Linked DNA regions of Homo sapiens. The protein of the gene in region 1 interacts with the protein of each later gene in a pairwise test. Each region holds a gene or a part of one and is shown in the gene's direction. Other genes may lie near its edges.

Evidence for each region.
Region 2: the proteins of TTPA (region 1) and DHODH interact in binary tests that used the Homo sapiens proteins (3 or more experiments, as listed by UniProt).

Annotation. Positions count from the first base shown.
Region 1 is NC_000008.11:63,068,166-63,084,734, reverse strand, and holds part of TTPA (alpha-tocopherol transfer protein), read left to right. Parts: intron 1-8,147; exon of another isoform or gene 8,148-8,282; intron 8,283-11,646; coding exon 11,647-11,800; intron 11,801-15,588; coding exon of another isoform or gene 15,589-15,705; intron 15,706-16,569.
Region 2 is NC_000016.10:72,000,901-72,011,743, forward strand, and holds the start of DHODH (dihydroorotate dehydrogenase (quinone), mitochondrial), read left to right. Parts: upstream 1-7,843; 5' UTR 7,844-7,864; coding exon 7,865-7,885; exon of another isoform or gene 7,886-8,009; intron 8,010-10,843. UniProt on the Homo sapiens protein: Catalyzes the conversion of dihydroorotate to orotate with quinone as electron acceptor. Required for UMP biosynthesis via de novo pathway.

The DNA of each region.
Region 1 (16,569 bases):
TAACTTTCTAAAGGAAAAAAGCTCCCTACCTCAAACCTTAGTTTGTCAGTCACATACCCAGAGGCTGGTTAGTGTTACTCATTTATCTTTTTAAACAGCCAGAGGTTGCACAAGCATGTTTGTGTGTGATTTCTATTTTGCCTTTCTTACCTGTCTTTGAACTAGGAGCATCCCATATCAACTGGTATACATCCATCTTACTCTTTATTGGGCTGCTGTTATTCTACTGGATGGATATATTAGACTATATTAAAATGTATCTAACCTGTTATTGGACTTAGGGCTTATTGCTGTTCATTCCTTCATTCAACAATTATTTTTTGGACTCTACAATTTGCCTAGTAGTACACAAGATGCAGTCAACAAGGCGGCTGTGGTTTCTTCCATCACTGACTGGGCATTCCTCATGTCCTCATACTTTGTGCATAAATAGGAATATAAATTTACAGGATAAATTCAACCGGTGAAATTGCTGGATGAAATTAGATGTGTATTTTTCAGTGTTGAGTAATATAACAAACTGTCTTCCAAAGAGTTTTCAGTGCCTTCCAAAGGTCGCAGTAGCTCAGGCCTGCAATCCCAGCACTTTGGGAGGCTGAGGATGGTGGATCAATTGAGCTCAGGAGCTCACGAACAGCCTGTGCAACATGGTGAAACCTCATCTCTACAAAAAATAACAAAAATTAGCCAGGTGTGGTGGCACGTGCATGTAATCCCAGCTACTTGGGAGGCTGAAGTGGGAGAATCGCTTGAGCCCAGGAGGTGGAGGTTGCAGAGAGCCGAGATTGTGCTACTGCACCACAGCCTGGACAACAGAGTGAGGCCCTGTCTCAAAAAAAAAAAAGAAAAAAAAGAAAAAAAACTCTATAACTCATCACTCTGATATTACATGATTTTGCCTTTTCCTCCATAACCCACACTGTATTATCAAACACAATTTGTGTATAAACCTGCTAAAAGAGATATACTTTTTCATTGTTATTATAATATGCATTTATTTAAGTGTGATTAATAATCTTTTATATACATGTAAAATTTCAAAATTTCTTTCCAGTTAACTGAAAATGGCCTGTTTTTGCTTTTGTTCTTTTTTTTTTTTATTATACTTTAAGTTTTAGGGTACATGTGCACAATGTGCAGGTTTGATACATAGATATACATGTGCCATGTTGGTTTGCTGCACCCATCAACTCGTCATTTACATTAGGTATTTCTCCTAATGCTATCCCTCCCCCAGCTCACCACCCTCCAACAGGCCCCAGTGTGCGATGTTCCCCACTGTGTGTCCAAGTGTTCTCATTGTTCAATTCCCACCTCTGAGTGAGAACATGCAGTGTTTGGTTTTCTGTCTTTGTGATAGTTGCTGAGAATGATGGTTTCCAGCTTCGTCCACGTCCCTGCAAAGGACATGAACTCATCCTTCTTTATGGCTGCATAGTATTACATGGTGTATATGTGCCACATTTTCTTAATCCAGTCTATCATTGATGGACATTTGGGTTGGTTCCAAGTCTTTGCTATTGTGAATAGTGCCGCAGTAAACATACGTGTGCATGTGTCTTTATAGCAGCATGATTTATAATCCTTTGGGTATATACCCAGTAATGGGATTGCTGGGTCAAATGGTATTTCTAGTTCTAGATCCTTGAGGAATCACCACACTGTCTTCCACAGTGGTTGAACTAATTTACACTCCCACTAACAGTGTAAAAGCATTCTTATTTCTCCACATCTTCTCCAGCACCTGTCGTTTCCTGACTTTTCAATGATCACCATTCTAACTGGCGTGAGATAGTATCTCATTGTGGTTTTGATTTGCATTTCTCTGATGACCAGTGATGATGAGCATTTTTACATGTATCCGTTGGCTGCATAAATGTCTTCTTTTGAGAAGTGTCTGTTCATATCCTTCACCCACTTTTTGATGGGGTTGTTTTTCTTGTAAATTTGTTTAAGTTCCTTGCACATTCTGGATATTAGCCCTTTGTCAGATGGGTAGATTGCAAAAATTTTCTCCCATTCTGTAGGTTGCCTCTTCATTCTGATGCTAGTTTCTTTTGCCATGCAGAAGCTCTTTAGTTTAATTAGATCCCGTTTCTCAGTTTTGGCTTTTGTTGCCATTGCTTTTGGTGTTTTAGTCATGAAGTCCTTGCCCACACCTATGGCCTGAATGGTATTGCATAGGTTTTCTTCTAGGGTTTTTATGGTTTTAGGTCTAACATTTAAGTCTTTAATCCATCTTGAATTAATTTTTGTATAAGATGTAAGGAAGGGATCCAGTTTCAGCTTTCTACATATGGCTAGCCAGTTTTCCCAGCGCCATTTATTAAATAGGGAATCCTTTCCCCATTTTTTGTTTTTGTCAGATTTGTCAAAGATGAGATGGTTGTAGATGTGTGGTGTTATTTCTGAGGCCTCTGTTCTGTTCCATTGGTCTATATATCTCTTTTGGTACCAGTACCATGCTGTTTTGGTTACTGTAGCCTTGTAGCGTAGTTTGAAGTCAGGTAGCATGATGCCTCCAGCTTTGTTCTTTCTGCTTAGGATTGTCTTGGCAATGTGGGCTCTTTTTTGGTTCAATATGAACTTTAAAGTAGTTTTTTCCAGTTCTGTGAAGAAAGTCATTGGTAGCTTGATGGGGATGGCATTGAATCTATAAATTACCTTGGGCAGTATGGCCATTTTCATGATATTGATTCTTCCTACCCATGAGCATGGAATGTTCTTCCATTTGTTTGTGTCCTCTTTTATTTTGTTGAGCAGTGGTTTGTAGTTCTCCTTGAAGAGGTCCTTCACATTCCTTGTAAGTTGGATTCCTAGGTATTTTATTCTGTTTGTAGCAATTGTGAATGGGAGTTCACTCATGATTTAGTTCTCTGTTTGTCCGTTATTGGTGTATAGGAATGCTTGCGATTTTTGCACATTGATTTTGTATCCTGAGACTTTGCTGAAGTTGCTTATCAGCTTAAGGAGATTTTGGGTTGAGACGATGGGGTTTTCTAAATTTACAGTCATGTCTTCTGCAAACAGGGACAATTTGACTTCCCATTTCCTAATTGAATACCCTTTATTTCTTTCTCTTGCCTGATTGCCGTGGCCAGGATTTCCAACACTATGTTGAATGGGAATGGTGAGAGAGGGCATCCTTGTCCTGTGCCGGTTTTCAAAGGGAATGCTTCCAGTTTTGGCCCATTCAGTATGATACTGACTGTGGGTCTGTCATAAATACCTCTTATTATTTTGAGATACGTTCCATAAATATCTAGTTTTTTGACAGTCTTTAGCATGAAGGGCTGTTGAATTTTGTCAAAGGCCTTTTCTGCATCTATTGAGATAATCATGTGGTTTTTGTCATTGATTCTGTTTATCTGATGGATTACATTTATTGATTTGTGTATGTTGAACCAGGCTTGCATTCCAGGGATGAAGCCAACTTGATCTTGGTGGATAAGCTTTTTGATGTGCTGCTGGATTCGGTTTGCCAGTATTTTATTGAGGATTTTTGCATCGATGTTCATCAGGGATATTCATCTAAAATTCTCTTTTTTTGTTGTGTCTCTGCCAGGCTTTGATATCAGGATGATGCTGGCCTCATAAAATGAGTTTGTGAGGATCCCCTCTTTTTCTATTGATTGGAATAGTTTCAGAAGGAATGGTACCAGCTCCTTTTTGTACCTCTGTTAGAATTTGTCTGTTAATCGGTCTGTTTTTTTTTTTTGGTTGGTAGGCTATTAATTATTGCCTCAATTTCAGAGCCTGTTATTGGTCTATTCAGAGATTCAACTTCTTCCTGGTTTAGTCTTGGGAGGGTGTATGTGTCCAGGAATTTATCCATTTCTTCTAGATTTTCCAGTTTATTTGCATAGAGGTGTTTATAGTATTCTCTGATGGCAGTTTGTATTTTGTGGGATCGGTGGTGATATCCCCTTTATCATTTTTTTGTGTCTATTTGATTACTTGATTCTTCTCTCTTTTCTTCTTTATTATTATTATTATTTATTTTTTTTTTTTTTTTGATACGGAGTCTCGCTCTGTCACCCAGGCTGGAGTGCAGTGGCATGATTCGGCTCACTGCAAGCTCTGCCTCCTGGGTTCACGCCATTCTCCCACCTCAGCCTCCCAGTAGCTGGGACTACAGACGCCCGCCACCACGCCCAGCTAATTTTTCTGTATTTTTAGTAGAGACGGGGTTTCACCGTGTTAGCTAGGATGGTCTTGATCTCCCGACGTCGTGATCCGCCTGCCTTGGCCTCCCAAAGTGCTGGGATTACAGGCGTGAGCCACCATGCCCGGCCTTCTTTATTAGTCTTGCTAGCAGTCTATCAATTTTGTTGATCGTTTCAAAAAACCAGCTTCTAGATTCATTGATTTTTCAAAGGGTTTTTTGTATCTCTATCTCTTTCAGTTCTGCTGTGATCTTAGTTGTTTCTTATCTTCTGCTAGCTTTTGAATTTGTTTGCTCTTGCTTCTCTATTTCTTTTAATTGTGGTGTTAGGGTGTCGATTTGAGATCCTTCCTGCTTTCTCTTGTGGGCATTTAGTGCTATAAATTTCCCTCTACACACTACTTTAAATGTGTCCCAGAGATTCTGGTATGTTGTGTCTTTGTTCTCATTGGTTTCAAAGAACATCTTTATTTCTGCCTTCATTTCATTATTTACCCAGTAGTCATTCAGGAGCAGGTGGTTCAGTTTCCATGTAGTTGTGCGGTTTTGAGTGAGTTTCTTAATCCTGAGTTCTAATTTGATTGCGCTGTGGTCTGAGAGACAGTTTGTTGTGATTTCTTTTCTTTTACATTTGCTAAGGAGTGCTTTACTTCCAATTATGTGGTCAATTTTAGAATGAGTGTGATGTGGTGCTGAGAAGAATGTATATTCTGTTGATTTGGGGTGGAGAGCGCTGTAGATGTCTGTTAGGTCTGCTTGGTGCAGAGCTGAGTTCAAGTCCTGGATATCCTCGTTAACCTTCTGTCTCATTGATCTGTCTAATATTGACAGTGGGGTGTTAAAGTCTCCCATTATTATTGTGTGGGAGTCTAAGTCTCTTTGTAGGTCTCTAAGGACTTGCTTTAAGAATCTGGGTGCTCCTGTATTGGGTGTATTTAGGATAGTTAGCTCTTCTTGTTGAATTGATCCCTTTACCATTATATAATGACCTTCTTTGTCTCTTTTGATCTTTGTTGGTTTAAAGTCTGTTTTATCAGAGACTAGGATTGCAACCCCTGCTTTTTTTTTGCTTTCCATTTGCTTGGTAGATATTCCTCCATTCCTTTATTTTGAGCCTATATGTGTCTCTGCATGTGAGATGTGCTATAGACATCTGATGGGTCTTGACTCTTTATTCAATTTGCCACTCTGTATCTTTTAATTGGGACATTTAGCCCATTTACATTTAAGGTTAATATTGTTATGTGTGAATTTGATCCAGTCATTATGATGTTAGCTGGTTATTTTGCCCATTAATTGATGCAGTTGCTTCATAGCATTGATGGTCTTTACAATTTGGCATGTTTTTGCAGTGGCTGGTACCAGTTGTTCCTTTCCATGTTTAATGCTTCTTTCAGGAGCTCTTGTAAGGCAGGCCTGGTGGTGACAAAATCTCTCAGCTTGTCTGTAAAGAATTTTATTTCTCCTTCACTTATGAAGCTTAGTTTGGCTGGATATGAAATTCTGTGTTGAAAATTCTTTTCTTTAAGAATGTTGAATGTTGGCCCCCTACTCTCTTCTGGTTTGTAGGGTTTCTACTGAGAGATCTGCTGTTAGTCTGATGGGCTTCCCTTTGTGGGTAACCCGACTTTTCTCTCTGGCTGCCCTTAACATTTCTTCCTTCATTTCAACCTTGGTGAATCTGACAATTATGTGTCTTGGGGTTGCTCTTCTCGAGGAGTATCTTTGTGGTGTTCTCTGTATTTCCTGAATTTGATTGTTGGCCTGACTTGCTAGGTTGGGGAAGTTCTCCTGGATAATATCCTGAAGAGTGTTTTCCAACTGGTTCCACTCTCCCCATCACTTTCAGGTACACCTATCAAAAGTAGATTTGGTCTTTTCACATAGGCCCATATTTCTTGGAGGCTTTGTTCATTTCTTTTTACTCTTTTTTCTCTAACCTTGTCTTCTCGCTTTATTTTATTAATTTGATCTTTAATCACTGATACCCTTCTTTCCACTTGATGGAATCAGCTACTGAAGCTTGTGCGTGCATCACAAAGTTCTTGTGCCAGGCTTTTCAGTTCCATCCGGTCATTTAAGGTCTTCTCTACACTGTTTATTCTAGTTTGCCATTCGTTTAACCTTTTTTCAAGGATTTTAGCTTCCTTGTGTTGGGTTTGAACATGCTCCTTTAGCTCAGACAAGTTTGTTATTACTGACCTTGTGAAGCCTACTTCTGTCAACTCATCAAAGTCATTCTCCATCCAGCTTTGTTCTATTGCTGGTGAGGAGCTGTGATCCTTTGGAGGAGAAGAGGCGCTCTGGTTTTTAGAATTTTCAGCTTTTCTGCTCTGGTTTCTCCCCATCTTTGTGGTTTTATCCACCTTTGGTCTTTGACGTTCATGACCTACACATGGGGTTTTGGTGTGGATGTTCTTTTTGTTGATGTTGGCGCTATTCCTGTCTGTTTGTTAGTTTTCCTTCTAACAGTCAGGTCTCTCAGCTGCAGGTCTGTTGGAGTTTGCTGGAGGTCCATTCCAGACCCTGTTTGCCTGGGTGTCACCAGCGAAGGCTGCAGAACAGTGAATATTGCAGAACGGCAAATATTGCTGCCTGATCCTTCCTCTGGAAGCTTCGTCCCAGAGTGTCACCTGCCTATATGAGGTGTCTGTCGGCCCCTACTGGGAGGTGTCTCCCAGTTAGGCTATATGGGGGTCAAGGACCCACTTGAGGAGGCAGTCTGTCCATTCTCAGAGCAGAAATGCCATGCTGGGAGAACCACTGTGCTCTTCAGAACTGTCAGACAGGGACGTTTAAGTCTGCAGAAGCTGTCTGCTGCCTTTTGTTCAGCTATGCCCTGCCCACAGAGGTGGAGTCTATGGAGGCTGTAGGCCTTGCTGTGCTGCAGTGGGCTCCACCCAGTTCGAGCTTTTGGCCCACTTTGTTTACCTACTCAAGCCTCAGCAATGGCAGATGCCCCTCCCCCAGCCAGGCTGCCGCCTTGAAGTTAGATCTCAGACTGCCACGCTAGCAGTGAGCAAGGCTCCATGGGTGTTGGACCCGCCAAGCCATGCACAGGAGAGAATCTCCTTGTGTGCCAGTTGCTAAGACCTTGGGAAAAGTGCAGTATTTGGGTGGAAGTGTCCTGTTTTTCCCGGTACATCCGTCATGGCTTCCCTTGGCTAGGAAAGGGAAATCCCCCAACCCTTTGCACTTCCTGGGTGAGGCAATGCCCCGCCTTGCTTCAGCCCACCCTCCATGGGCTGCACCCACTGTCCAACCAGTCCCAGTGAGATGAACCAGGTACCTCAGTTGGAAACGCAGAAATCACCCATCTTCTGCATCGATCACACTGGGAGTTGCAGACTGGAGCTGTTCCTATTCGGCCATCTTGGAATGGATCCCATTTTTATGTTTTACTGATTTATAAAATATTTTTATGTATTTTAGGCCTTTTTATATATTTTAGGCCTTTGTCCTTGATTTTTATCTGTTACATTACTTATACTATTTTTTTCTGTGCAGAATTTTAAATTTTAATGTAATCAAATGAATTGATTTTATTAGTCTTTGATTGCCTCTGGGTTTTATAATCTCTTCTCTTGTCCAAAATTTTTTCTAGTTATTTGTGTCTTCTCTTTTTTATGTTGGGGTCTTTGATCTATTGAGATTTGTTTTTATGTTAGGAGTAAAATAGGAATCCAACTTTATTTATTTTCATTTTTTAGATGGCTATATAAGTATCCCAATATCATGAGTAATAAACTAATATGTACTTAGTAACTACTGAATATGAAAACACAATCTCAGGTCCTATGAAGAATGAAGCTTAAATGAGGCATTAAACATATATATGTATAGAGATAACTAACAATAAAACATGTTTCATTTACTAATTTCATTTTAGCTGCTTTAAAAAAAGTAATGTTTAAATAGAAAAATAAAATTGACCATCAGCCTCTGGGACATAATATATTTTTTTCTGTATTCCTTAAATAAGGAATTGTTTTCATTGTACCATGCCCTTGAGGAATTGGCTAGCAGGACTGTGTCTAAATCCACCGCATAGAAATCAAGTTTCTGTCTGTGAACTCTTTGTCTTGCTTTTCTGCCAACTGGAAAGGAAAAGGAAAGGGTAAGAGTGCAAAACTTTTTTTCATTTTCCTCTGCAATAGCACTTAATTCAACTCTAACTTCTTCATTCATAATATAGAAGCCCTATAGTTTTTGTATAAAGAAAGCTTGATAAGTGCCTCAGTCACAATGAAATTTCTCATTATTCTAGTGTTTGTATTTGAAGTTATGATGAATTAATAAGGTTTTATTATATAATCCTAATAGCTAATGTGCTTATAGAATGCAACATACTTTGGTAAGTAGGGTTTTCATGGATTATCTTTTATTATTTTCTCATTTTAGAAGAAACAGATATAAAGAGTAAGTAACTTGTCTGAAATTATGTAGCCATTAAGTGTTGAAGCAGGGATTTGAATTTGGGTTGGGCTCAGGAGAGAGCCTGCGCTGTCAAATACACTGCACTTGCCTCTTATATTTAAAACAACAAACATATAAAACAGCTAACCATTCACTTCTCTGCCTGTTCTACATAGTCTCATGAATTCCTTATATCAAGTGATAGCCTAGTTCCTTATACTTTTGTTCCATGTGATAAGCTTTTTATGCTATAATTATCTTTATGGTTTTCCCAAAGCTTTCCAAATTCCATAGATTCTCCCTGCTAATTTCTCTCTAAATGCAGCTTCTTTTATAAAATTTTTCATATCATGTGTCCATTTCAGTTTCCACTCTGCTCCTGATAGTTATTGCCTTTGAACAAATGTGTAATTTCTCATAGCTTTACTTTACTTTTTTTTTTTTTTTTTTTTTTTGAGACGGAGTCTGGCTCTGTCGCCCAGGCTGGAGTGCAGTGGCGCAATCTCGGCTCACTGCAACCTTCGCCTCCCAGGTTCAAGCGATTCTCCTGCCTCAGCCTCCTGAGCACGCACCACCACACCCAGCTAATTTTTGTATTTTTAGAGATGGGGTTTCACCATATTGGCCAGGATGGTCTTGATCTCTTGACCTCGTGATCCATCCGTTTTGGCCTCCCAAAGTGCTGGGATTACAGGCATGAGCCACTGTGCCTGGCTGGAGCTTTACTTTTCTTATTCTTATAATGCCACAACAGTAGCTACTTCTCAGGGTGATGGTGAGGAGGAATTCAAAAGATGGCATTAGACCCTATAAAAGTGCTCCAAATATGGTGGTTCTTATTTTGTTTCAAAGTACATGAAACATGTAAGAAGAAACCTACTCTGTTACAAAACATAGTTAACCCATAACATTTTAAATGTTTATTTACTTCTAATGTTTGCAAAACAGACACCTTCCAATGATGAATATTTATTTTTAGCCACTTCTTTGTTGTTGTTGTGGACATAGGGTGGTTTGTTTGAGAATTGCTCAGTAGCAGTTTATTTACATAATTTATTTATGACAGCTATACTGTGAATTTATGTATCAGTGGATAAGTAAAGACCAAAGTTCCAGGTTTAGATCTTTCAGTTTGCAAAAATTGTGCGAGATAGTGATTTGTGCCTCTTTACAGAAGTCAGTTTTTCAAGTGTGTGGTTCCAGTTGGTTTACTCATGACTTAATTTATTCTTTCATTCAACACGTGTTGTTATCTCCTGGGTGTGCAGCACTCTGCAGAGATGAATAAGCTGAGGCCCCTGCCAGTATTAAACCTAAATGATCCCTTCTAATGAAGCCACAACTTTTATCATTCCACAGGAAAAAAAAACACATTATTTCTATATAGTTACTAATGTGCAGCTTCCAGCATTTTACTTGAATTGGAATGAAAAAGATTTTTATGTCTGAGGAAACTATCAGAAAAGTAAAAAGCATTGTAAAATACTGTTAACAGTTATTCTGGTACCCCCTAAGACTGGAGGAGGAAGAGAAATGCACCGTGTAGAGTAGAATGAAGATATTAGGACCTACAATGTGCCTGTTGTTCTCATGCTTTTGGAAACTGCTATTTAGGTCACCAATTATTTCTTTGTTGGCAAATTGACTTTTTTCTTTCTTACTCCTCTCTTGCATTTAACTCTTAGCAACATTCTCTCTTTTTTCAAAGTTAAGAAAGGTTTATTAAATACAGAAATGAAATAGAGGGAGACAGACAGAGAGAGAAAGAGAGGGAGATAAATCAGAGATGGGGGTGAGGGGGAGCAGAGCAATGCAGATGGCACTGTCCTCCCTCTCGTGTACCAGTGCTGGTTCTCTTCAGGTCCACTCAGTTTCTGTCTTCCTCCAGCCATTCCCAGCCATTAACATTTCCCAAGGCTCAGCATTTCCCTCTCTAGTTTTTGTCGTTTGTAGTTTCTCCTCCAGATCATTGTGATTTTTGTGGTTATAGTTACCTTGTTTATTCCAATTACTCTCAAATATAAAATCTGTCATTTTCTCTGCACTGCAGTCTCACATTAATAAGTCTCTTTAAACTCAAAACAAATGTATTGTAACTTGTGAAAAATTGAGAGTGCCAAAAATCATGAGAATAAAATTAAAATATAAATATAATAATTTTTAAATACATAATTTGCTTTAGTATTTTCCACAATATGCTGGTAGTGTTTGTATGTTTGCGTATATGATTAGCTATTTCCGGTGGTTCTTTTGGAAAGAAAGAAAATGGGATTTCTTCAGACCATATTTTGACAAGATCCAGTATCCAAGTATACTGCTCCTGGGCTCTTCTAACTCATTTGATTGATTTCTATACTTCCTTATTTCAAAAAATACTAAAAGTGGTGTTTCAGCTTTCTATTGCTGAGCAACAAGTCACTCCAAGAATTAGTGGCTGAAAACACAATGATTTATTTGTTTTTGATATCACCAGTTTGGGCAGGGCTCAGTGGGAGTGGTTCATCTCTGTTCCACATGGCATTAGATGGGAACTTGGCTGAGGTCACACTATCCAGGATGTCCTCTCAACCTCCATGCCTCTCTCCACATGAATTGCTATCATTCAGTAATCTCACATAGTGTCTGGATCCCAAATAGTACATTCAGAAGGTACCAGGCTTCTTAAAGCTTGGCCCACACAGTATCACTTCTGCCAGTTGATATTAGATCAAAGCAAGGTGGAAGGCCAGCCTAGATTCAAGGGGAGTGAAGCAAATAGATGCCATCTCTTAATGGGAAGAATGGTGCATGGGTATCAGGAGGGGAGGAATTGGTGGCTGTCTTTGGAGGATATCTACCATGGGTGGTGAATGAAAGTTGCTCAGCTCTGAATTTGTGATTAACCCCTGTCACCTCAGATCCTTGATAAAAGAACTTTCAGTTTTCACAGCTGAAAAGATACCCTAGATTAAACTCTTGACATAATGGATGGCAAAGTTTATACACAATGCCAAAGCTTTTCTTCCATTTTTACAAAATCATTACCATGTATGCCATTTGTAGACAATTTTAATTTTATTTTTCAGTTACTAAAAAACTATTATAAGTGGAGAGCAGAATGTCCAGAAATAAGTGCAGATCTACACCCTAGAAGTATTATTGGCCTCCTAAAGGCTGGCTACCATGGAGTCCTGAGATCCAGGGATCCCACTGGCAGCAAAGTTCTTATTTACAGAATCGGTAAGTCATACACAACTCTTTTTTTTTTCTCCTCTCCTCCAGTTCAGTTGTGTTCCCTCCCCTCTCCTCTTCTCTCTTTCTTCCATTTCTTCCTTGAATACCATATAGAAAGCTTCAATGCATTCATCTTTAGGAATTTGGGCTTTAATTTAAAATTTTAGGTTTTAACTTAGATTTAATTTAGGTCTTAATGTCCCCCAAATATAATAACACTTTGGTAATTGTGAGAAAATTAACAGATACAAGTGAAAATCCTAGTTCCATTCTTCCACACAGTCAACTGTACAAAATAAGAAGAAAGGAAAATAGTGAAGATGAATAGTGTGAGAATATTTTAAAAAATCATGGAAAAGTGTTTCAAAAATGCTTAGTAGGAAGTGCAAATAAGAATTCTGAACTATTGGCTGGGCATGGTGGCTCACACCTGTAATCCCAGCTGAGGTCAGGAGTTCGAGACCAACCTGGCCAACATGGTGAAACCCCGTCTCTACTAAAAGTACAAAAATTAGCTGGGTGTGGTGGTGCATACCTGTAATCCCAGCTACTCGGGAGGCCGAGGCAGGAGGATTGCATGAACCTGGGAGGCAGAGGTTGCAGTGAGTCAAGATTGCGCCATTGCACTCCAGCCTGGGCAAAAGAACAAGAGTCCGTCTCAAACAAACAAACAAAAAACAACCAGAATTCTGGGCTATAATGTAAACTCCATGAGATTGTGGATTTCATCTACTCTGTTTGCTGGTGTATCCCAAGCACTGAAAACATGGTCTGGTACTTGGTAGGTAGTCACTAAATATTTGTGGAATGAGTGAGTGAATGACTAGTTCGAAAATGCCCCAGGCCGAGGAGCAAGAGGCTCATTCTCTTGGGTGGAGGAGGGTGCAGAGGAAAGGCAACTCCTCTGGGAGCTGTTGCAGACACGGTATTCCATTAACTCCTGTTTATTCTCATTGCATCCCCTTTTTTTCTATTAGGTGTAGCTAGTGTTTCTTGTAGGTTGGTGTCTTAGTGTATTCAGGCCACTATAACAAAATGACGTAGACTGGGTGACTTATAAAAACAGAATTTTATTTCTCACAGTTCTGGAGGCTGGGAAATCCAAGATCAAGGCACTGGCAGATTTGGTGTTTGGTGAGGGCCTGCTACCTGGTTCCTAGGTGACATCTCTCACTTTAACCTCACATGTTGGAAGTGAAAAGGCATCTCTCTTGGAACTCATAAGGGCACTAATCCCATTCATGAGGGTTCCATCCTCATGACCTCATCATCTTGCAAAGGGCCCACCTCTTACTACCATCACTTTGGGAGTTAGAATTTCAGCATATGACTGTTGAGGGGATGCAAACATTCAGATCATAGCAGTTGGTGACCTATAACTTCTGTCCTCCCTCAGACCTGCATATGATTAAAAATGGCCGGCACAGGAGAACGACTCACACTATTCCCAGAATTTCTCATGGCCCAGTTGAAGGACAAAGATAAACCAACATTTCATGACCAGAATTTTTTAATTATAATTTTACAGAAACAACTATATCTTTAAAGATTTAAAATATTTAAATATTTGCATTTCTTGCCTGCTTATAGATAAGATACCTGCCTGTAACTCAACTGCTTGCCATACTGCAAGAAGTTACTGTATTTAATTTTTGAAAGGATATTGGAAGATCGAGTAAAATGATTTGGGGCTGTTTTTTAATTTTTTTTGCCCTAGCTTAAGTGTCAAATAAAATTGAGTTAATCATGAAATCCCATCTATAAAACAGACATCATGATCTTCCTGTTCTTTCATTGCTGCACCAGTGTCAGAGGAAATTGAATGAGCTCATAGCAATGAAGTTCCTTGAGCTTCTTAGGGGTAGTCTTGCCAGATTTAACAAAGTACCTATGTTTTATTTAGGAAATAAACCTATATGTTATAAAAATAAAGGATGCCCAGTTATTTGAATTTCAGATAAACAACAGTTTTTTTAAAGTATGTATGGAGCATTCTTATGTTAAAAATTATATACTGGTTATCTGAAATTCAACTTTAATTGAGTGTTGTATATTTTTACCTGGCAACTCTACTCAGGGATCCAAGAAACATAAAACTGAAACCTGCAGCTAATTATTTTTGTAAATGTCTTGGCTCTGCATTGTCTGGCTAGATTTTATTGTGTCTAGTTTGTTCATAAAGTGACTGAGGCAGGTGAAGAAGTAAAAGTGACACCTTGATAGTGAGAAAGCAGATGTGCAGTTTTGATCATAAATACCTTAACACTGAACCAGTAGGGGTATTTTTCTGGGCCTCATGTAGCACATTAATTTAGAAGTATATTGTTTAACTCAAGAGATTTGAAAATCAAGAAAACATGTAACTTAGTGATGGTCAGAACAGGAAGGTATGTTGCAAATCTCCTGTATGTTCTGTTATTCTAGGATGAAAGGGAGAAACTCAGAAAGTTTTATGAGTAAAATGAAAACTTTTCTAAATTTGATTGAATTAATGGGAGGAGCTAAAGAAGGAAATCTGTGGTGGAACTTTTCGGTAGAACTTTAGCATAACCACCTTCTCTAGATACCATCTCTGTGCAGTAAAAGCAATGAGAAAATGCACACAGCCCTTTCCTCCATGCGGGCCGGGCAACCCAAGGTGAAGCTAAGTTTTGACCTTTATCAGCCAACATGCTGTAGGATATAATTTTATGTTTTTTGAGATCCCATAGTATACTACTAGCAGCAAAAGTAAAATTTAACAGTGAGTGTGAAGTTTTGACTGTGGCTTAGTTCTTGTGAATACAGGTTCTGGAGCATGTGACCTGGATTGGAATCTCAGCTCTGCTACATTCTAGCTGTGTGAAACACTATGTAGCTGTAACTGCATTTTCTCATCTGTAAAATGGGCACATTGAAAAGCTGTCACATAGGGTTGCTGTAAGCATTAAATCAATCTATCAGTCTGTCTATCTAAAATATAACAAGAGCATTACCTGGTACATAAAAGCACTCAATACATATTAAGTAGATACTGGAGAAGGAATTCAAAATATAAGGTATATTTTTCTTTTGCCTCAATGGAGCTTAAATTCTAGCCAGCACTGTACCATAGAACTTTCTATGATGATGAAACTGTTCTACAATAGACACTATTCTCATGTGGCTATTGAGCACTTGAAATGTGACTACTGCAACTAAGAAACAGATTTTTTTTTTTTTTTTCTAAGCTAGGGTCTTACTCTGCCATCTGGGCTAGAGTGCAGTGGCACAATCATAGCTCACTGCAGTCTTGAACTCCTGGGCTCAAGTGATCCTCCCACTTCGGCTTTTGGAGTAGCTGGGACTAGAGGCATGTGCTACCACACTCAGCCAGTTTTTTTATTATTTTTATTTTTTAGAGATGCATTCTCACTATGTTGCCCAGGATGGTCTCACTCCTGGCCTCAAGCAATCCTCCCCCATCAGACCCACAAAGTGCTGGGATTCTAGGCATGAACCACTGCACCTGGTGAAACTAAATCTTTAATTTAAATTTGAATGACCACACATGGCTAATGGCTACCATATTAGCCAGTGTAGGCCAAACAATTATGTTGGTTGGCTCAGAACTTAGGACATAAACTATTTTTTTGATTGGCAAACTTCATATGTTCTTTTTTTTTTTTTTAATCATTATAGCATTCAGCCAATGTCTGAAGTTAGTATAGTATTTTTGATCTGGGTTATCCATGGGTTGATTGTTCAAATTCTTATGAGAAATCTGAGGCTTGTTTTTTTGTTTTGTTTTGTTTTGTTTTGTTTTTTTGAGACAGAGTCTTGTTCTGTTGCCCAGGCTGGAGAGCAGTGGGCCATCTCGACTCACTACAACCTCTGCCTCCCGAGTTCAAGCGATTCTCCTGCCTCAGCTTCCCAAGTAGCTGGGACTACAGGTGTGTGTCACTATGCCCAGCTAATTTTTGTATTGTTAGTAGAGATGAAGTTTCACCATGCTGGCCAGGCTGGTCTTGAACTCCTGGCCTCAAGTGATCTGTCCACCTTGGCCTCCCAAAGTGCTGGGATCACAGGTGTGAGCCACCATGCCCGGCCAGAAATCTGAGGCTTTTAAAAAACACTAACACACCTCCTGAAGGATCCATTAATATGACAGAAAATAAAAATTTTTAAAAAATAGCAATCCCATTGTGGCTTCTTAGGAATATTTCTGTTTATTCTTTCTTTTTCTAGATCTTCAACTTTTCTCTTGCTACTACATGCTACCAGTTAACATTTAAATCAGTTAAGGGCCAGCCACTAAAAACAAAACAAAAACTCCTCATTCGTTCCACAAAACTCTCCCTCCTTCATTACATCTATCTCCCCTCTCTTTGTTAGTGATGTCCACCATCCACATTTTCTCACAGTTCCTCCTCAGCCCACCCTAGTTTGATTTCACTCCCATCCCTGCTGAAATGAATGTAACCAACCATTATTGACTTTCTTTTTACCACATTTAATGGACATATTTAGTCCTATTTCACTTAACCTCTCAACAAAGTGAATCACTTCTGCTTTCTTGAAAAATCCTCTTCCCTTGGCTTCTCTGATGCCATGTTCTCTTGGTGTTTTTCTCTGACATCACTGGCTGCTCCTCCTTAATCTCTTTTTCTGGCATTTCCTCTTCTACTCATCCTTTAAACTCTGAATTTTTTTAGGACATTGGCCTCAGCCTTTTCTTTTTATGTTACTTCATCTCTCTGCTTTGATAGAGAAAAACATAGCTCTGAGACAATCCCTGTTGTGGATCATCATGTAGG
Region 2 (10,843 bases), on another chromosome or scaffold:
CCAAAGTGCTGGGATTACAGACGTGAGCTACTGCACCTGGCCTGACTTTTTAAAAAAATAAATGTTATTGTGTATATTTAAGGCACACAGCATGATGTCATGGGATACATATAGATATTAAGAAGGTTACTATAGTAAAACAAACATATCCATCATCTCACATTAGTTACCCACTTTTTTTTTTGTTTTTGTAGCAAGAGCAGCTAAAATCTCATCTAGCATGAATCCTGTCTACTGTATGGTTTTATTACCTGTAATCTTCAGTTTGTACACTAAATCTCTTGACTTGTTCATCCTACATCTCTGCTACCCCCAGGACTGATTTAAATTACTGTATTCTGTCTCTTAAGTACATGCAAACAGAACTAGGCATAAATGCTATTTTTTTTTTATGGGGTCTCACTATGCCACCCAGGCTGGAGGGCAGTAGCATGATCATAGCTCAGTGCAGCCTTGAACTCCTGGACTCAAACGATCCTCTCACCTTGGCCTCCCAAACTGCAGGTGTGAGCCACCGTCCCTGGTCCATGAACTTTATCTTAAAACTCTTACACGGTCATAAAAACAAAACAATATTAAATGGAAGAATGAATACAAATTAAATACAAACAAAACTGAAAATCAATGAGATCCAAGTTTTGCCAAGCTAAATGGCAGATAAACAGGGCTCTGGCCTACGACTACACAGGTTCCTTTGAATCTGGCATGCATGCTATTTTATGATATGGGGAGGGTTCAGTTCTGATACCACGTTTCTTTATTTGACTCACACACACACATACACACACAAAAAAAACCTTTGTTCACACAGCAGGTCATTTGGTCTCCACCTGTTGCATATCCATCACGTGTATTACAGCTCGTTCTTTCTTGGTGCCAAAAAGTGATCATAAACTCAAACAAATGTGGGCACTGAACTGCTTGGTAGGTTTCAGGGTTAAGATGGTTATCCAGATAGTCCAAATGATGCTTATGTTACTCTAAAAATCAGTACAGAAGTGGTCACCAAAATTATGAAATTCTCTAAAACACAGACTGCAAGAATACATCCTGTTTGAAAAACACTGCAGTAATCAGCCAGGCGTAGTGGCTCACGCCTGTAATCCCAGTGCTTTGGGAGGCCGAGGTGGGCGGATCACTTGAGGTCAGGAGCTCAAGACCAGCCTGGCCAATATGATGAAACCCCGTCTCTACTAAAAATACAAAAACTAGCCGTGCATGGTGGCGCGTGCCTGTAATCCCAGCTACTCGGGAGGCTGAGGCAGTAGGATCACTTGGCAGTAGGTTGGCAGAGGTTGCAGTAAACTGAGATTGCACCACTGCACTCCAGCCTGGGGGACAGAGCAAGACCCTGTCTCAAAAAAAAAAAAAAACAATAAAAAAAAACCCAAAAGAAAAACACCAAAAACACTGCAGTAATCAAATGAAAGATAAATACAGTATGATCCTCCCTTTCATAAAGTCCAATTAGGGAAGAAAAGGCATAATAATTGTAATTAATATAGGCAGTGAAAAGTGCCAGCCCAGAGGGACAGCTTAGGTGCTGCTGGGAAGGTTCAGATAAGGAAGAAATTACTTCCAGCTTTTGGAATGAACATATTAAGATGGCAATATTTAGACAGATGAAATGGACATCTCGACAGAGGAGTCGATGTGAATAAATACACAGAGGTGGGAAAGTGGAAGGTATTGATAAAGAGAAAGAAATACTTGAGTGTGTGTGTGTGTGTGTGTGTGTGTGTGTGTACATGTAGGGGGTACTTGGTGGAACAGTAGTAGGAACTGTAACCAGAAAATGGGAGAGTTTCAAATGCCAGAATAAAGGGCTTGCAGTTTATTTGGAAGGTTTCTGAGCAGAGTAGTCCACCCTTTCAAGAGTTTGTGACAATGGAATCATCTGGATGTGGGATGCTTTTGTTTTCAAAGTTCACAGAGCCTCAACTTCTAAACATCTTCATATACATACATAAATAAATGCATGATACATCCACACATATGTTTCAAGCTTTTTTTCCAGATTAAAAAATGATACTTTATTATAATTTTTAAAATTGCAGAACGTCAGGCTGAATATCATTAGACACATACACAAAACCACTCATCTCTAAAGTCATCTTCTATACCCTCTCAAAATTTGGCCAATGAATTATGCCTCAGGGAATTTTCCAGTTCAACCCCATACATAAATGGAAACACTAGCCTTTTGGTTTTGCCCACAGTTCCAAAGTGCTATTACAGGTGGAGTATCTGCTGCAGGAGGTCATTCTTGCTGCTGTGGGTGTGAGTAAAATGTCTATCTGTATGCCTCTGGTCCTGCAGGCTTTGTTCTCTTTCTCCTTGTTTGGTCTCCTTCTACAGGGGTTACCTTACATACTGCAATCAAAAGACATCTTCTGCTCGGAATCAAAACAGATAGTGAGAGGTTCAAGTGAGAAGTAATGTTACATAGTAAGTTACTGAATTTACAATGAGAAATTGAACTCTGGGGTTACAACTCAAATATGATTTCAAGGTAAAGAAAATAATTACTTGGCTGGCTGGTGAAATGCTTAGTTCCTTCTAAAATCATAATTGCAATATGGACTTCTGCTTCATGCTGCATTCCAAGGCACCAATCAGGTAACCTACATCTCCCAAATGATCAACAGAGCGTTCCTTCCTATTTTACCCTCAGTGCTGAGAAATTACTCCTGAGCCCAGAAGTTGTTGTGTAGGTGACTTGGGTGACTTGGTGCCCAGGCAACAACTGCCACAGGCCCCACCTTGATGAACACCATTGATTTCTTTAAATATGATGATACTAAGATGGAGGCCCCTGCTCAGAGGAAGCAAGGACGTAAAAGCCAGGACAGGCTGCGCTGAGGGTCACTACACTAACAGACCCAGACGACACGATGGAACGTGAATACTGAAGCCAACAATCTTCTGGAACTCTCTTTTCCAAAACTCATATGCTGTTTTTTCTAATTGGGAAATCAGGGACAGGGAAACATTCGCATAATTACCCACCAACATGTTCTTCTTAACAGAAATGAAGATTATTATTATTTTTTTTTTGAGACAGACTGTTGCTTTGTCGCCCAGGCTCGAGTTCAGTGGCGCAATCTCAGCTCACTGCAAGCTCCGCCTCCCGGGTTCACGCCATTCTCCTGCCTCAGCCTCCCGAGTAGCTGGGACTACAGGCGCCTGCCACCACGCCCGGCTAATTTTTTGTATTTTTAGTAGAGACGGGGTTTCACCGTGTTAGCCAGGATGGTCTCGATCTCCTGACCTCGTGATCCGCCCTCCTCAGCCTCCCAAAGTGCTGGGATTACAGACATGAGCCATCGTGCCCGGCTCCACTTTGGTTTTTTCTAATCGGTTCAGGATCTCATTTACTTTCTTCTCCATTGTCACAATTTTTACATCCTTCTGCCTGTGAAAGCCTATCTGCCTCACATCCACGTCAGCTGTTTTCTTCAGGTTAGACCGTGGAGTATTTACCACATTAACGTTGTTCTTGCAGCCTTGAGTGCTATTGGCCTTCACAAGGTGGGCGCAGTCTGTCAGCACTTCCTTTGGAATGTCCTCTATATTCTCTCCCTTATGCAATTGAAGGTATACATGAGCCAAAGAGAGTCTGTCCGCACGAAACCAGATATATTCAGGCCAGCCATGCTTCATCAGATCTTCATGATGATTTATGGGTTAGTAGGAGAGATATAAAACTCAAGGGCCGGGCGCGGTGGCTCATGCCTGTAATCCCAGCACTTTGGGAGGCTGAGGTGGGCGGATCACGAGGTCAGGAGATTGAGACCATTCTGGCCAAAATGGTGAAACCCTGTCTCTATTTCATATTTATCCTTTCCCATGTAAATAGCGCAGGCAGATGAATTAACGCTGCTGCTGGTGAAGTAGAACACCATGATGCTGGCGGGGGTGCGGTGACTCCACCGTGGAGCAGCAGCGTTCAACTGTGGCGGTTGCCTGGTCCCCGGAACTCTCCTCTTTTTTTTTTTTTTAATGCATTATGGAAACTTTTTTATGTGATTTTTGTACATAAGGAATATGAGAGTAACTCTTTTACAAATGAAACTAATTTACTAGAACAAACAGTGACAAAACTGAACTGATATTTGATGTGAATCCATAGGAGTTTAAGCTTCAAATCCAGCCAAGAAATTTGTTACAACTCCATCAGCTTTGCATCTGAGTCTTCTGAGATCTTTCCATCAGCCCTGATAGTGCCCAACAGGGCTTAGCGCTGGCTGACAACATGAGACAAGAAAGCATTCTCAAACTTTGTAATCTTGCTGGGCTCCAGTTTATCAAGATACCCCCTTACACCCGCACAGATAACAGCCACTTGTTGTTCAGTAACCATGGGAGGATACTGTCCTTGCTTCAGCAACTCAGTTAGACGCACACCGCGACTCAATAGTTGTTGAGTGGGAGCATTGAGGTCAGAACCAAACTGGGCAAAAGCAGCAACCTCACGATCCTGAGCCAATTCCAGCTTCATGGTACCTGCCGCCTGCTTCATAGTCCTGGTTTGGGCAGCAGATCCAACACAAGACACAGACAGACCCAATGTTAATGGCAGAGCGGATATCTTTGTAGAACAATTCTGTTTCCAAGATCTGTCTGTCAGTGATGGAAATGACATTTGTTGGAATGTAAGCAGACACATCATCGGCCTGTGTTTCTATGACTAGCAAAGCAGTCAAGGAGCCACCACCAAAAGCATCATTCATTTTGGCTGCTCTCTCCAGCAACCGGGAGTATAGGTAAAACACATCACCAGGACAGGCCTTACGACCAGGGGGGTCGGTGGAGCAACAGAGACATCTGACAGTAAGCGACAGCCTGTTTGGATAAGTCGTCATAGATGATCAAAGTATATTTGCCATCGTCTCTAAAATACTCTCCCATGGAACAGTCAGAGTAAGGAGCCAGGTACTGAAGTAGGGCAGCATCTGAGGCCATAGCTGACACCACAGTGGTGTACTTCACGGCATCTGCATCTGTAAGTCTCTTCACCAACTGAGCAACAGTGGATCTCTTTCGACCAATAGCAACATAGATACAGTACAGCTTCTTCTTTTCTTCAGATCTATCATTGAAATGTTTCTGGTTAATGATTGTGTCAATAGCAATTGAGGTTTTCCCAGTCCTTCGGTCACCAATAATGAGCTCATGCTGACCACGACCAATTGGCACCAAGCTATCCACAGCCTTAATGCCAGTCGGCATTGGTTCCCACACTGAAGTTCGAGGAATGATTCTGGGGGCTTTCAGACCGACTCACTTATGGGTCTTGGAACCCATTGGACCCTTTCCATCAATAGCATTACCAAGGGCATCAACTACACGACCCAACAGCTCCTCACCGACTGGAACGTCCACAATGGTTCCTGTCCTCTTCACTATACCTCCTTCCTTACTTTATTATTTTCAAACACTACAATGCCAACATTGTCAGTTTCGAAGTTCAAGGACATATCCTTTAAGCCTGAAGAAAACTCTACCATTTCTTCTGCTTGGAACATTCCTCAGCCCATGTACATGGACAATACCATCACCAATACTTAAGACATGCCCAGTTTCTTCAAGGTCAGCAGAGGTATCAGCTCCAAGAACATGCTCTTTAAGAATAGAGGACATCTCAGCAGTCCCAGTCTTCTGAAGATGAGTGTTAGAGGCATGGAGGTTCCTTGCAGCAATGAAAGATGAACCCAAAGCATTTCTGGAGACCAGTCCTGCCCACCGAGTGAGGTCACGGGCTACGGCCGCGGAGACACACACAGACAGCATCTTTGCAGTTTCTCCACAGGTGGTACCTCCACAGCCGCAGCCTCTGGACTGACTGGGACCGTTTCAAGCATTTTTAAATGAAACCTGATGTTGATGAAATCTCTGAAAGTCAAGTCAGGTATCTTACACAATGCTGTAATTTCATTTCAATCCTTTTCATAAAGGGTAAAGTCCTTGTATATATTCTTTCAATACATGCTTTATCTAAGACACAAGCACTCTATCAATAAAAGTTTTAATTTAAACGACCAAAAAATTGGTGAGAGAGTGCTCAGAACTGAGGATAAACATGTAAGTAGTTTTTTGTCCCAGATGAGCAATGATTTATGTTGACTAAGGTGTGCTGAATTAACTTATTCCATTAAAGTGTAAAGGGAAGACAGGTTGATAAGCATAACTTTTACCTTGATAAATGTTTTCAATGATTTCTATTGCATGTAGACTGAAACACCTAGCATGTAAATTATTGCAGTAGAATCTGTCTCTAAGTCTCAGCTGGGTCTGTGAATTTGTTCTAATTTGATAGCTTCATACAACTGATGAAGCTCAAAAATGGCTTGACTCAAGATATTTCATACACCTTTCTTTTGCTCTAATTTCTGCTACGACAATAACCCAGCTATTTCAGCTGATGGCGGGAACACTGCAACTGGACAAAAATGACACGGATGGGTGTAGAGCCTCCAAACAATAAGTATCTGATTAATGCTGTTGACACCTAAGTCTACAGAGGCTATTCTCCAACGGCCAGGACATCATTAGGTAAGACATTTCAAAATTCTTCGTGAGGGCACGATTGCTTCAGAGGACTACAAAGTGACACATTAGGTCGTCATAAATCACCGCAGTACCATCCTGGCTAACACGGTGAAACCCCGTCTCTAAAATACAAAACAATGAGCCGGGCATGGTTGCGGGCGCCTGTAGTCCCAGCTACTCGGGAGGCTGACGCAGGAGAATGGCGTGAACCCGGGAGGCGGAGCTTGTAGTGAGCCGAGATCGCGCCACTGCACTGCAGCCTGGGCAACAGAGCAAGACTCTGTCAAAAAAAAAAAAAAAAAAAAAAAAAAATCACCGCAGTAAACCACACTCCAACGGGCCTGCACACTCAGGGTCTTGATTAGAAACAGTATTTAAAAAAATACCTCCACATCTGTTGCACCACAATGCCAAGGTATAACCAGGGCCACTTTCTCCAGGAGGCACAACAGGCGCAGGGCCAGGGAAGGGCCTCTGACACTTTTAGGATCTCAAGAAATTTTTTTTTTTTGGTTATTTTTCTTTGTTTGTTTTTGAGACAGAGTCTTGCTTTGTCGCCCAGGCTGGAGTGCAGTGGTGCTATCTCGGCTCACTGCAACCTCCACCTTCTGGGTTCAAGCGATTCTCCTGCCTCAGCCTCCCGAGTACCTGGGATTACAGGCGCCTGCCACTACGCCCGGCTAATTTTTGTATTTTATTTTATTTTTTAGTAGACACGGGGTTTTGGGTGTTGACCAGGTCTCGAACTCCTGACCTCAAGTGATCTGCCTGCCTCAGCCTCCCAAAGTGCTGGGACTACAGGCGTGAGCCACCATGCCCGGCCTCAAGAAAATGTTTTAATTTCCTTAAAAAACCTTAAGAAAAATCAACTTTTAAGTTGAAAAAGTTTATATATTAACATATTCATCTTTATATCAACACAGCAGTAAAATTTATTTTTTAAAGTGATAAAAACTGTACAAATATTTCTGGTGTGAAACACAGTGTTTTGATGCTCGCGGACTCTTGGATTCGAGGCTGCGGTAGTACGGACAAACACCGTGCAGCGGCATCTCATCTCCGCCAACAGCCGGCGATCAAGCGGGCAGGCTGGGAGAGGGCGGGCGGAAGAGGCGTGGCCGCCGCTACTGCGCACGTGCACCCAACCAGAACCTGGGGGTGGTGCCGGGCCTTCCCCGCTGCGCGGAGGCGTCCTCTCAACCCTTCTGCCCGGCGACTGGTGGGTTGGCGGCTAAGGGGCGGAGACAAGAGGGGCCGCCACCATCTCCTCCAATGGAAGGGAGACAGGGGCGGGCTTAATGACGGAAGGAGCATGGCGTGGAGACACCTGAAAGTGAGTCCCGCGAGTGAGCAGTGTGGATGGGGGACCAGGGACCGGGGAGGGCGAGAACGGAGAGTCAGGCCGGGCGAGGCATGGACCGAAGGCGGCTCCGGGAGTGTGGGCCCCCCTGGGACGTGTGCGTGTTTCCGGGGTCTCCTGCAAATGCTCGTGCGTGTGCATTTGCACGTGGACTCGGTCAGGCGTGTGCAGACAGCGCCTGCAGGTCTGGGTGGGTGCTGATCTGAGTGTCTGCGCCTGGGCCATGTTTTTGAGCCTGGCACAGGGGTGCTTAGTGAACACATGACCGCCTAGCGTTGTGTGCCGGATCCAACGGGGAATGAAACTAGAGTAGGACATGCTCCCAACCCTTTTAGGTAAAGTTTTGTTAGGGGCGGGGGTCTCTGTGAAAAGTTCTTAGCTGTATCCCCGTATGTAATAGGTGTTCAGAGGCCGGGCGCGGTGGCTCACGCCTGTAATCCCAGCACTTTGGGAGGCCGAGGCGGGTGGATCATGAGGTCAGGAGATCGAGACCATCCTGGCTAACAAGGTGAAACCCCGTCTCTACTAAAAATACAAAAAATTAGCCGGGCGCGGTGGCGGGCGCCTGTAGTCCCAGCTACTCGGGAGGCTGAGGCAGGAGAATGGCGTGAACCCGGGAAGCGGAGCTTGCAGTGAGCCGAGATTGCGCCACTGCAGTCCGCAGTCCGGCCTGGGCGACAGAGCGAGACTCCGTCTCAAAAAAAAAAAAAAAAAAAAAAAAAATAGGTGTTCAGATATTTGTTGATTGACATGGTGGGGGGGAGTACAGTCTCCAAGGGAGGCAATGAATAACCTTGACTTTCTTTTTATATGTTTATTTGAGACGGAGTCTTGGGCTGTCGCCCAGGCTGGAGTGCAGTGGCGCGATCTTGGCTCACTGCAACCTCCGCCTCCCGGGTTCAACCGATTTTCCTGCCTCGGCCTCCTGCGTAGCTGAGATTACAGGCGCGCGCCACCACGACTGGCTAATTTTGGTATTTTTAGTAGAGACTGCAGTTTCACCATGTTGGTCAGGCTGGTCTCGAACTCCTCACCTCGTGAGCCTCCCAAAGTGCTGGGATTACTGGCGTGAGCCACCGCGCTCGGCCTGAGTCTCTTTTTAAAATAAATAAATGGAGAGAGATGGGATCTCACTGTGTTGCCCAGGCTGGTCTAGAACTATTGGCCTCAAGGGATCTTCCCGCCTCAGCCTCCCAAAGTGGTGGGATTACAGGCGTGGGCTACCGCGCCCAGCCAATGAATACTTGATCTACATGTCTTTAGCAGTTTGGAAGGATCCTTAAAAGCAAATCTAATCATGTCATTTCCTGGCTTAGGGAACAAAACCCAAATCTTTATTTTGGCCAAGACTCCTGCTCCTTTCTCCTGCCTCGTCTTAAGCCTTACTTTCCCTCACTCCTCTGTTCCAAACTTTCTCCCTTTTTCATTCTCTTCTGCTACTGAGAGAGCCTTTACACTTTTTCCTCTCCGTACTGCCTTCTGGTTAACTATTTTTTTAAATAATTGAACCAGAATAGGTTCAGAGAGACCCCCATCAACTCGTTTATCCCTTGAGTATCAGCTTTAAGTCATTTCCTTAAGGAAGCCTTTCCTTACCTCTAAGATTAGGTTGAATACTTCCATTACCTTATACTTTTTATCCTTCATCACAGTTGCTATGACTACATATTTGCATGATCATTAATTTCTGTCTGTCGCTTCATAAGATCACACTCTCCATGAGGGTAGGGGCAAGATCTGTTTTGTCATCTTTGCTCAATCAGTATTTGATGAATGACTGAACTAATGAATGAATAACTCAGCATGTGGCAGTGATAGAGAAAAGCATTGTGAACCACTTTTGATCCAATAAGATCTGAAGCTTCTGTTTTATATTTTACACCCCCGTTACCTTGAAATGGAATATATGTATAATGTCTTTGTATGTATACATTTTTGAGAGAGTCTGACTCTGTCGCCCAGGTGGAGTGCAGTGGTGTCATCCCGGCTCACTGCAGCCTGGACCTCCTGGGCTCAAGGGATCCACCCACTTCTGCCTCCCAAGTAGCTGAGACCGCAGGCGCACCACCATGCCTGGCTAATTTTTTATATTTTGTAGAGACGGGGTCTCACTATGTTCCCCAGGCTGGTCTCAAGCGCCTGAGCTCAAGCAGTCCTCCCACTTCAGCCTCCCAAAGTGCCGGGATTACAAGCATGAGCCACCAAGTCCAGCTATGTGCAATTTTTAAAAGCCAGCATAATTAATACCCTAACTGGAATATAAAGGAGAAAATGTAAAAGTAGTTTATATTAATAATAAAATTACATGTATTTCAGTATGTAAATATTGCTATGACTCCCCTAGTGAGATAGTTGTGTTTAAGTCTCTACTTAGAAATGCAGGTACACAGGTGTGTTACATATCAGGCACCCCAGGAAAGCACTGTACCATTCCCGATGAGATTTTCTGAAATGGTGAACAATTCTTGGGAATGTTCTATGTGAAACTGTACAGTTGTCCCTCAATTTACAAGATATTTGTACTGTATGTGAAAACCATGTAGAGGCTGGGCACGGTGGCTCATGCCTGTAATCCCAGCACTTTGGGAGGCCAAAGCAGGAGTACTGCTTGAGCCTAAGGGTTCAAGACCAGCCTGGGCAACATAAAGAGGCTCTATCTCTTCAAAAAATTGGCTGGGCTTGGTGGCATGTGCCTGTGGTCCCAGTTACTTGGGGAGGCTGAGGAGGGGAGGATTGCTTGAGACCAGGAGGTCAGGAAAGACAGTTTGTGTTTATGTGGTAAAATATAGTTTGGCTTAGATAATATGAACGGATAATTTTTACCCACACAAATGTCAGAATGTTCAAAAGTCACACAGGAAATGGGGCAGTTCATGTCAGATAGTCTCAAGCCAAGAAGGATGTCTGACTTTATGGATTCCTGCCCACCAC